Linked DNA regions of Homo sapiens. The protein of the gene in region 2 interacts with the protein of the main gene of each other region in a biochemical or structural test. Each region holds a gene or a part of one and is shown on either strand. Other genes may lie near its edges.

Region 1 (4,320 bases), on a different chromosome or scaffold from region 2:
GCTAGATAGATAGACATGGATATAGATATAGATCTCTATATAGATAGAGGTAGATACAGATATAGATATATGCCCTATTAGTTCTGTTCCTCTAGAGAACCCTAATACAGTGACCGTATTTGGAATCGGTCCTTCTGTTAATTTCACTTGGCAAGTACTAAAAGATGATGATCTCAGATATACCTATGGCTGCAAAAACATGACATGGCTAAATCCCTTGGTTGCAGTATCTCTTTTCTTTTTTAAGGGGGGTGGGGGGGCGGGTCTCACTGTTGCCCAGGCTGGAGTGCAATGGCGTTATCATAGCTCACTGCAGCCTCAAACTCCTGCGCTCAAGTGACCCTCCTGCCTCAGCTCCCAAAGTGCTGAGATTTTGCAATATTTATGGTCACAAGATTATGTTATTCCATAAAAGTATCTTTCTGAGGCTAGGCATGTTGGTTCACACTTGTAATCCCAGCACTCTGAGAGGCTGAGATGGAAGGATTCATTGAGGCAAGGAGTTCAAGACCAGCCTGGTCAACATAGTGAGACCTCATCTCGGAAGGAAGGAAGGAAGGAGGGAGGGAGGGAGGGAGGGAGTGAAGGAAGGAAGGAAGGAAGGAAGGAAGGAAGGAAGGAAGGAAGGAAAAGTATATTTTTGAATCTTTTTCTATTTCTCCAACTCTTTCTTTAGAAGAATTCTATTTCCATTCTTTCTTCACCTCTTTGCCTTTGTTAGCCTTCTCTCCAAGCAAATCGGGAGCCTTTATTTTTTGTGTATTCATGAGGGAGAGGAAGATGAATTGCTGTACAAACTAAAGTAATGAAAATGGAGTAGGTAGGAGGATAGACAGCTGCAAGGATCTGAGCTGGATAGACTGAACAAACCCTCATCCTAAGCAACTCACAGCTCAGATTTCTTCTCTGGACAGCTGGCTTTTTTCGTCCTTCTGAAATACTCTGCAAAGATAGGAGAGGGGCTATGAACTACCTCTGCTATGGATCTTATTCAAAGTCAGCTACCTCCTAGATACTATCTGTAGAACCTAAATGTAATATTCAGCATAGCAGGGATGAACATGGTAAATGAAAGGTATCCAATTGCCCACTGTAATTTTTAAAGGCCAGGAGCTCAACATTATTGAAAATGCTGGAGGGCTGCCTGGAGTAGGCAGTGACCACAGAGTCACACAAGCTGGAATTGGATATCCAACTTGTCTGTCATATTTCTCTCCTCCCTCCCTGACTTGGCACTCAATACTCCATATTCTTTCTAATCCTCTAACCCTCCCCACTCCCCCAACTCCCACACCCTACCCCCACCAACGTTCCTGGAATTTTGGACTTAGCTATTTTTAAAACCGTCAACTCAGTAGCCACCTCCCTCCCTGCTCAGCTGTCCAGTACTCTGGCCAGCCATATACTCCCCCTTCCCCCCATACCAAACCTTCTCTGGTTCCCTGACCTCAGTGAGACAGCAGCCGGCCTGGGGACCTGGGGGAGACACGGAGGACCCCCTGGCTGGAGCTGACCCACAGAGTAGGGAATCATGGCTGGAGAATTGGATAGCAGAGTAATGTTTGACCTCTGGAAACAGTAAGTCAAAATGAAATTGCAATTCCTTTAATAAGCTTTTATATTGAAGTTAGACTTTTATAAAATTACAAACACCTACTTGGATGTCTCTCGTCCAAATGCTGGGATCTCTCCCTACCAAGGTGCCCCAATCTCCATTTCTCTTTCTGTCTTATTTCTTTCTGGCCTCTGGCCTCTAGCTTTTTGAAGTTTAATTCTCTGTCTCTCCTCTGGCAGTCTTAGCCCTCTCTTTACCTTATTACCTCAAGACTCCTGATGAAGTTTTAGAAGGAGTTCCCTACGTCCTCTATTCTGTAGTTTTCTTACCAAGGCCAAATATGACCTCAGATGATGAGTCACTGATACCCTTCTATCCTGCCCCCACTTAGCAATGCCCTTCACATTGAGATTCCAAGCATGGGGGCTGCTCCCTGTAAATGATTTCTCCCCACAACTCTAGTCCCTCCATTCTATTCTCCCTCTTGCAGGACTCTTCCCCCAATCATATCCTTACCCATAAGATAGGGGAGTTAGGCAGGAGGGATTTAGCCCCTCTCCAACTCCTGTCATCATAAAAGACTGAGAACTTCAGAATTTGAAAAGAAGAGATTAATGGAAGGAGTGATATTTGGGAAAATACAAGAACTGTTGACTTAGAAAAAACAAATATTGATTTGCATGTTTGGTTTGCATCCCATTATTCCATGAGAGAGGGAGATTAAAATTGCAGCTCTCTAGAGCTGATGAAAAGAGATTGGTTTCCTTTTCATTTGAATACTGATATTCTAGACGGGATGGGTATGCCACCCTTAATCCTTCTTGTGTTCTGACACAAAGGAGGAAAAGAAATGTATGACTCCTAGAGGGCATCTCCTCCTAATGGAGAGGGACAAATAAGAAGTATGTTTCTGAAATATTTTCAGGTCCTAATTTTACTAGGGTACCCACTAGGATTACTGGTATCTGATCTAGCCCCATGATTCCTCCATCTTTGACATACCTGCTGTTTGGTAGCTCAGAATGGAGCAATACAGTGGACTCTGCCCCCTTGAGTTCACTCAACCTTCCCTCCACCCCCACCTAGGGGTATTGCACAAGGGCCCTAAAAGTGGCCACAGGAACAGGGCAAAGAGGCTTAACTGCCACACTTATAGTTTGAGGAACTCCAATCTCCCCAAATTCCAGTCTGTTCATCCTTTTCTTGATCTCCCCAGATTCACTCCACATTATCCTTACCAATCTTCAATTCTTCTCTCTCTCCATGTCCAGCCAAATTTCTTTTTTCAGTCACTTACAGGGCTTCCGGTCAAAATTCACTAGGTAGGAGGGTCATCAGCTGGGAAGAACCGGCGCCTGGGAAACCTGGCTGGATAGGTATGGGGGAGCCAGGCCAGTCCCCTAGTCCCAGGTCCTCCCATGGCAGTCCCCCAACTCTAAGCACTCTCACTCTCCTGCTGCTCCTCTGTGGACATGGTAAGGAAGGGCCAGGGAAGGGTTTGGGGAAATCTAGAGGGTAGGCTGCTATGTAGGGGTGGGCATGTGAGCCTGAATGAGTGAGGAGAGATAGGCGCTGAGAGTCCCGATCACTCGCCCTGCTCTCAAATACTAATATTTTATTTCCCGTTCAGTCTGGGGAAGGCCACTGGGGAAGCCCTTGGTCGACAGGCAGAAGAGATGTGGCAGGCTTACACACTTTTAGTAAGACAGCCGAGAGAACTAGGGACTAGGGGGTTGGGGGCTGGGGAAGGCCCTTAGTTAGGTTTTAGGAAGGCTGGAAACCCCTGATGAGATTTGGAAGAGTTATGAGCAAACTACACTCCGATAGAGCAGAGGTCTGAGGACCGTCTCACAATCCTCTCCCTTCTGTCTTTAGCTCATTCTCAATGCAAGATCCTCCGCTGCAATGCTGAGTACGTATCGTCCACTCTGAGCCTTAGAGGTGGGGGTTCATCAGGAGCACTTCGAGGAGGAGGAGGAGGAGGCCGGGGTGGAGGGGTGGGCTCTGGCGGCCTCTGTCGAGCCCTCCGCTCCTATGCGCTCTGCACTCGGCGCACCGCCCGCACCTGCCGCGGGGACCTCGCCTTCCATTCGGCGGTACATGGCATCGAAGACCTGATGATCCAGCACAACTGCTCCCGCCAGGGCCCTACAGCCCCTCCCCCGCCCCGGGGCCCCGCCCTTCCAGGCGCGGGCTCCGGCCTCCCTGCCCCGGACCCTTGTGACTATGAAGGCCGGTTTTCCCGGCTGCATGGTCGTCCCCCGGGGTTCTTGCATTGCGCTTCCTTCGGGGACCCCCATGTGCGCAGCTTCCACCATCACTTTCACACATGCCGTGTCCAAGGAGCTTGGCCTCTACTGGATAATGACTTCCTCTTTGTCCAAGCCACCAGCTCCCCCATGGCGTTGGGGGCCAACGCTACCGCCACCCGGAAGGTCAGGCACTCAATCTTCCTTCCGATCCACCTCATGAGATTCTTCCACGGGCACCATTCCTCCCCATCCCCACTATTCAACAGCAATGCTCCCTAATTCCCTTTTCTTCCTCAACCTCTCCCCCATCTCGAATCACTCCCTTCTACCAAACACCTGGAGCTGTAAATCACTTCCCCTTGATGGGAATTTGACTCAAATGCAGAAAACCTTGAAGAGACAGTCGGAGAGGGCGGACCTGAGGAGTTTCAGAAGGGAAACTTTTCCCTCTCCTAGGAAGTTGCCACGATTAAGTAGAGAGGGGGTTAAGTAGGGATGAGGTAATACTGGAAC
Region 2 (3,818 bases):
GGGCAGATTACTGAAAAGATATGTAGAGACCTTGGGGAAGATGACATGGCAGCAGCCTGTGCAATGCATGTCTTCTCTATTTAGAGTGAACATTCTTCACCGAGGACTCTGTAGCTTCTGCCTGAACCATTTATTTCATGATGTGATTCATTGCCTTACAGGGTAGTCCATTTCTGTGTTGAATAACTTCTGTTAGAAAATGTTGCTTTGTACAGTACATTTCACTGTAGTTTTCACCCTCCCCACCCTTCTTACATTTTTTCCTCTTTGCTTACCTTTTTCAGCATTACTCTATCTTCAGGTTAATCTCTTCTCTGATTAATTCTTCATTTGTCTTTCTGGCTTTTCTTGAACTCACTCACTTAAATATTAGTATCTAAAGCTTATCTCATTATACATACTCTGTTTGCCCTCAGTTGCCACCTGTAAGCTAAGGACTCTCTTAGTCCACACTTTCTCACTTGCCACTCGGTACCTTCACTAAATAGGATCTTAGGTTACTGAAGTCCGAAGTTAAACTCTGTGTCATTTTCCCTCGTGCTTCCTTCATCCCCATTCTCTAAACATGAACAAACCAGTTCCTGGCCCCTGTGTCTCATGTTGTTGGAAGGATTGCATGGATTTGTCTTCTTGTGTTGCCTGTCTTGGTCATCACTGTTCATCCACTTGCCCAAGCTGAGATCAAGAAGACCTCCTCTTCCCATTGCCATAGCGGATAGTTCTTTTTGCTTTTTACCTCTCAGCTGTTTCTTGACTCTGAATCGGTATCTTTTCATCTTCATCCCCACCTGGACTAACAGTAGTGGCTCCATAATTAATCTCTTTGTCTGTACTGTTACCCTCTAGAAGTCTGTCCTGCTAGAATGAGCTTCCTGAAATATTTTCCTGAGCATGCCACTCTCCTACTTAAAATCTGTTACTAGTGTTCTGTAGCTTGGGTGTTAGAACTCTTTGGCATGGAGATTGTGAGGCCCTTTGTATTCTTTACCTCTGTTCTCCCAAACCCAATAAAGCCTCATCTCTTGTCACCCCTAACATGCACCTTGCATTCCACCACTCCAGATTAACGACACAGCTTCAGATCTCCGTGCCTTTGCACATGCTGTTCTTTCTGTTAAGTCACTTCTCACCTTGTCCACTTCTGAAACTCCTTATCTAGTCAATGAATTTTTCTCTACCAGCTTTCTCTTCCAAAGAGAGTTATGGTCACTATTCTGTGTTCCCATAGCTTCCTGAGTACTTTTCATCTTCTGTTACTTATTTTCTTGTCTTTTCTGCTAGTCTCAACCTCTGAAGGGGTTGGCCGGGTTGTCTTATTCACCTTTGTTTCCCTAGTGTAGCACTAACATGTAGCATAGAGAAGATAACCAGTAAATGTTTGTTGACTGAATGTTGAATTGCCTTTGTTTTTAACCCGTAGGGCCATACAGCACAAATCTGATTCCTTTATATGATGGCCCTTCATGTGTCTAATCACATTTCCTGTGTGCATGTGTGTGTGGGCCCCCCCTGCCCTTCCCCTCAAACCTTATCCTTTTTAAGTTAACCATCCTTAATTCCTTCAGCCACTCTTCACATTACTTAGTTTCCAGATCTTTTGTGATCTTGGTCATCCTCCTGGATATGCTGTAGTTTTAGCGTTTTTTTAGTTTTGTCATCTTTGGAAAGATCTTTGATCTTACTGAGTCATCTAAAAGAAAAGACTGATGGCGTTGCTCTGCCTGTCTGTTAGAATGAGGCACAAAAGAGATCATAGAATTCTGGGATGAATGCTCAAAGAAGATAAGAAATATGACTGATTTTCATAAACTGTATGAAAATTAATACATGATGTGAGATAGTGAAAAGACATACATGAAGGCAGAGGATATGGGGTATGACTTGTGGTTCTGCAACTTCACATACATCTGTAAGTTGGGGGATATAGGCAGGCAAGAATAATACCTTACCTACCTAACTGGATTGTCAGAAAAATAAAATGTAAAATTGTTCATAAACTATAAAGTACTGTACCTATGTAGAATGGCTTCAGTGTTTCTTTGTGAACTCTAAAAATATACTATATTAAATTATTTGAAAGTGTAGACTTTTTTTTCTTTTGGCTTAATTGATCATTGCTGGTTTCTTCCTTATGAGTTTTTCTCTACCTCAATGAAAATATTGGGGTAACCTTAATAAATCTCATTATATGGAGGCTGTATTTAATAGTCTTTTTTCCAAACACTTTATTTTATTAGTGACTTCCATGTGATTGGGAGCTATTTACCATATCATTGGTAAGTGTTTAGGTTTCTGGGTAAAATTGCATCAATAATTGGAGAACAGTCAGAGGAAATGACTGTAGGTAAGATCATATTGACCGGAGAGCTAAGTGAAGTGAGGAGAAGTTTTGTGTTTACGATTTTGAAAAATTAACTTTGTCATGGACATAGCTAGTGAAAGATGATTTTAAAATAGAGCTCAAATTTTGGATTCATTTAGAATGAAGAGAGTTTTTTTGATTCAAAAATTTTGTAAATAGTGACAAAAAAAGGCATTCAGACCCACTGGTATGATTTTGGTATATTTCTTTCTACTTACTGCCTATATGGCACATTATCTTTTTACATTGTAATCATGGTGTATGTATAACTTGAAATGTTTTCCTTTGACATTATACCATTTTTCTTTGTTGTCACATTATCTTTAAATCATTTTATTTTAAAAACTTATTTAAAAATACATAAATATATGTTTGTTTGCAGTCAAACAATATAAAAATACATAGAATAAAAGATTTTATCACTTCTACCCACAAATTCCATTTTTGAAACCCATAAGTAACCCCTTTTAATATCTTCCCTTGCATGTGCATATGTGTGTATGGTTTTATTTTTTTACAGATAAGCAGGATCATACTACCTATTGTTTTTTCAACTTGCTTTTTCACTTAGTATGTTGGAGATCGTTCCATGCCAGTACATACAGATTTTCCTATAACCATTATTTAAAATGTGTGTGTAATATTCCAGGGAGCAAATATAATAATAGTGGCTAATTAAAGTAGTAGTTACAGAACACTCCCTGACTTCCAGGCATTGTGCCATGCTCTTTCACATGTATTTAATCTTTTATACAGTCCTGTGAGGAAGATGACAATTTCTTCACATTCCACAGATGAGGAAACTGAGTCTCAGATATTAAGTGCCTTGCCGAAGGTCTCACAACCTTTCATGTGCAAGAGTTGGCATTGGAATCCAGGTTTTTGCAACTTCAAAGCCTATGTTCTTTATTCCTCTGCATTCTGCTGCTAATTGTGTATTCTCCTGTTATGGATATGGAAGTTGTTTTTACTGTTTTGCTGTGATAAAGAATGCTGTGATGAACATATTCTTTCTATATTTTGGATTCCCCCATATAGGATTGCTGGTGAAAAGTTAACTTGTGTGTGTATGTGGGGGTCAGGGTTCCATTTATTGCAGAAAAGTAATGATGTCATTAAGAATAATTCCATTGACTAATACTTTCATAACTTTTTGAAGGTTTTACCACTTTTAATTGTGAACTTTGGGTACTTAAGGCCATGTTTTAAAATGCAAGTTCATCTGTTAACTGAAAGGTTAAGCTAATTAATAAGTAATTTCAAAGGTCCCTTCTGCCTTCCAGGTTTCTCTTACTCTGAAGTCCATAAAATGGAACAGTGGGTTTATTTCAGCTTAATAACTTCTATTCAGTTATTGTGTTCCAACACTGGTCATTTCTGGTTTTCAGATGCAAAAGTCACCTTTTTTTCATTCGCTAAAGCTCAGGTTATTGTATATCTTTTTTTTGTAGTGCAA

The links.
Region 1: the proteins of NEO1 (region 2) and HJV form a complex in vitro, tested with the Homo sapiens proteins (one study listed by IntAct).

What each region holds. Positions count from the first base shown.
Region 1 is NC_000001.11:146,018,845-146,023,164, reverse strand, and holds the start of HJV (hemojuvelin isoform a precursor), read left to right. Parts: upstream 1-1,429; 5' UTR 1,430-1,578; intron 1,579-2,826; exon of another isoform or gene 2,827-2,844; 5' UTR 2,845-2,933; coding exon 2,934-3,030; intron 3,031-3,430; coding exon 3,431-3,990; intron 3,991-4,320. UniProt on the Homo sapiens protein: Acts as a bone morphogenetic protein (BMP) coreceptor. Through enhancement of BMP signaling regulates hepcidin (HAMP) expression and regulates iron homeostasis.
Region 2 is NC_000015.10:73,055,160-73,058,977, forward strand, and holds part of NEO1 (neogenin isoform 1 precursor), read left to right. Parts: intron 1-3,818. UniProt on the Homo sapiens protein: Multi-functional cell surface receptor regulating cell adhesion in many diverse developmental processes, including neural tube and mammary gland formation, myogenesis and angiogenesis.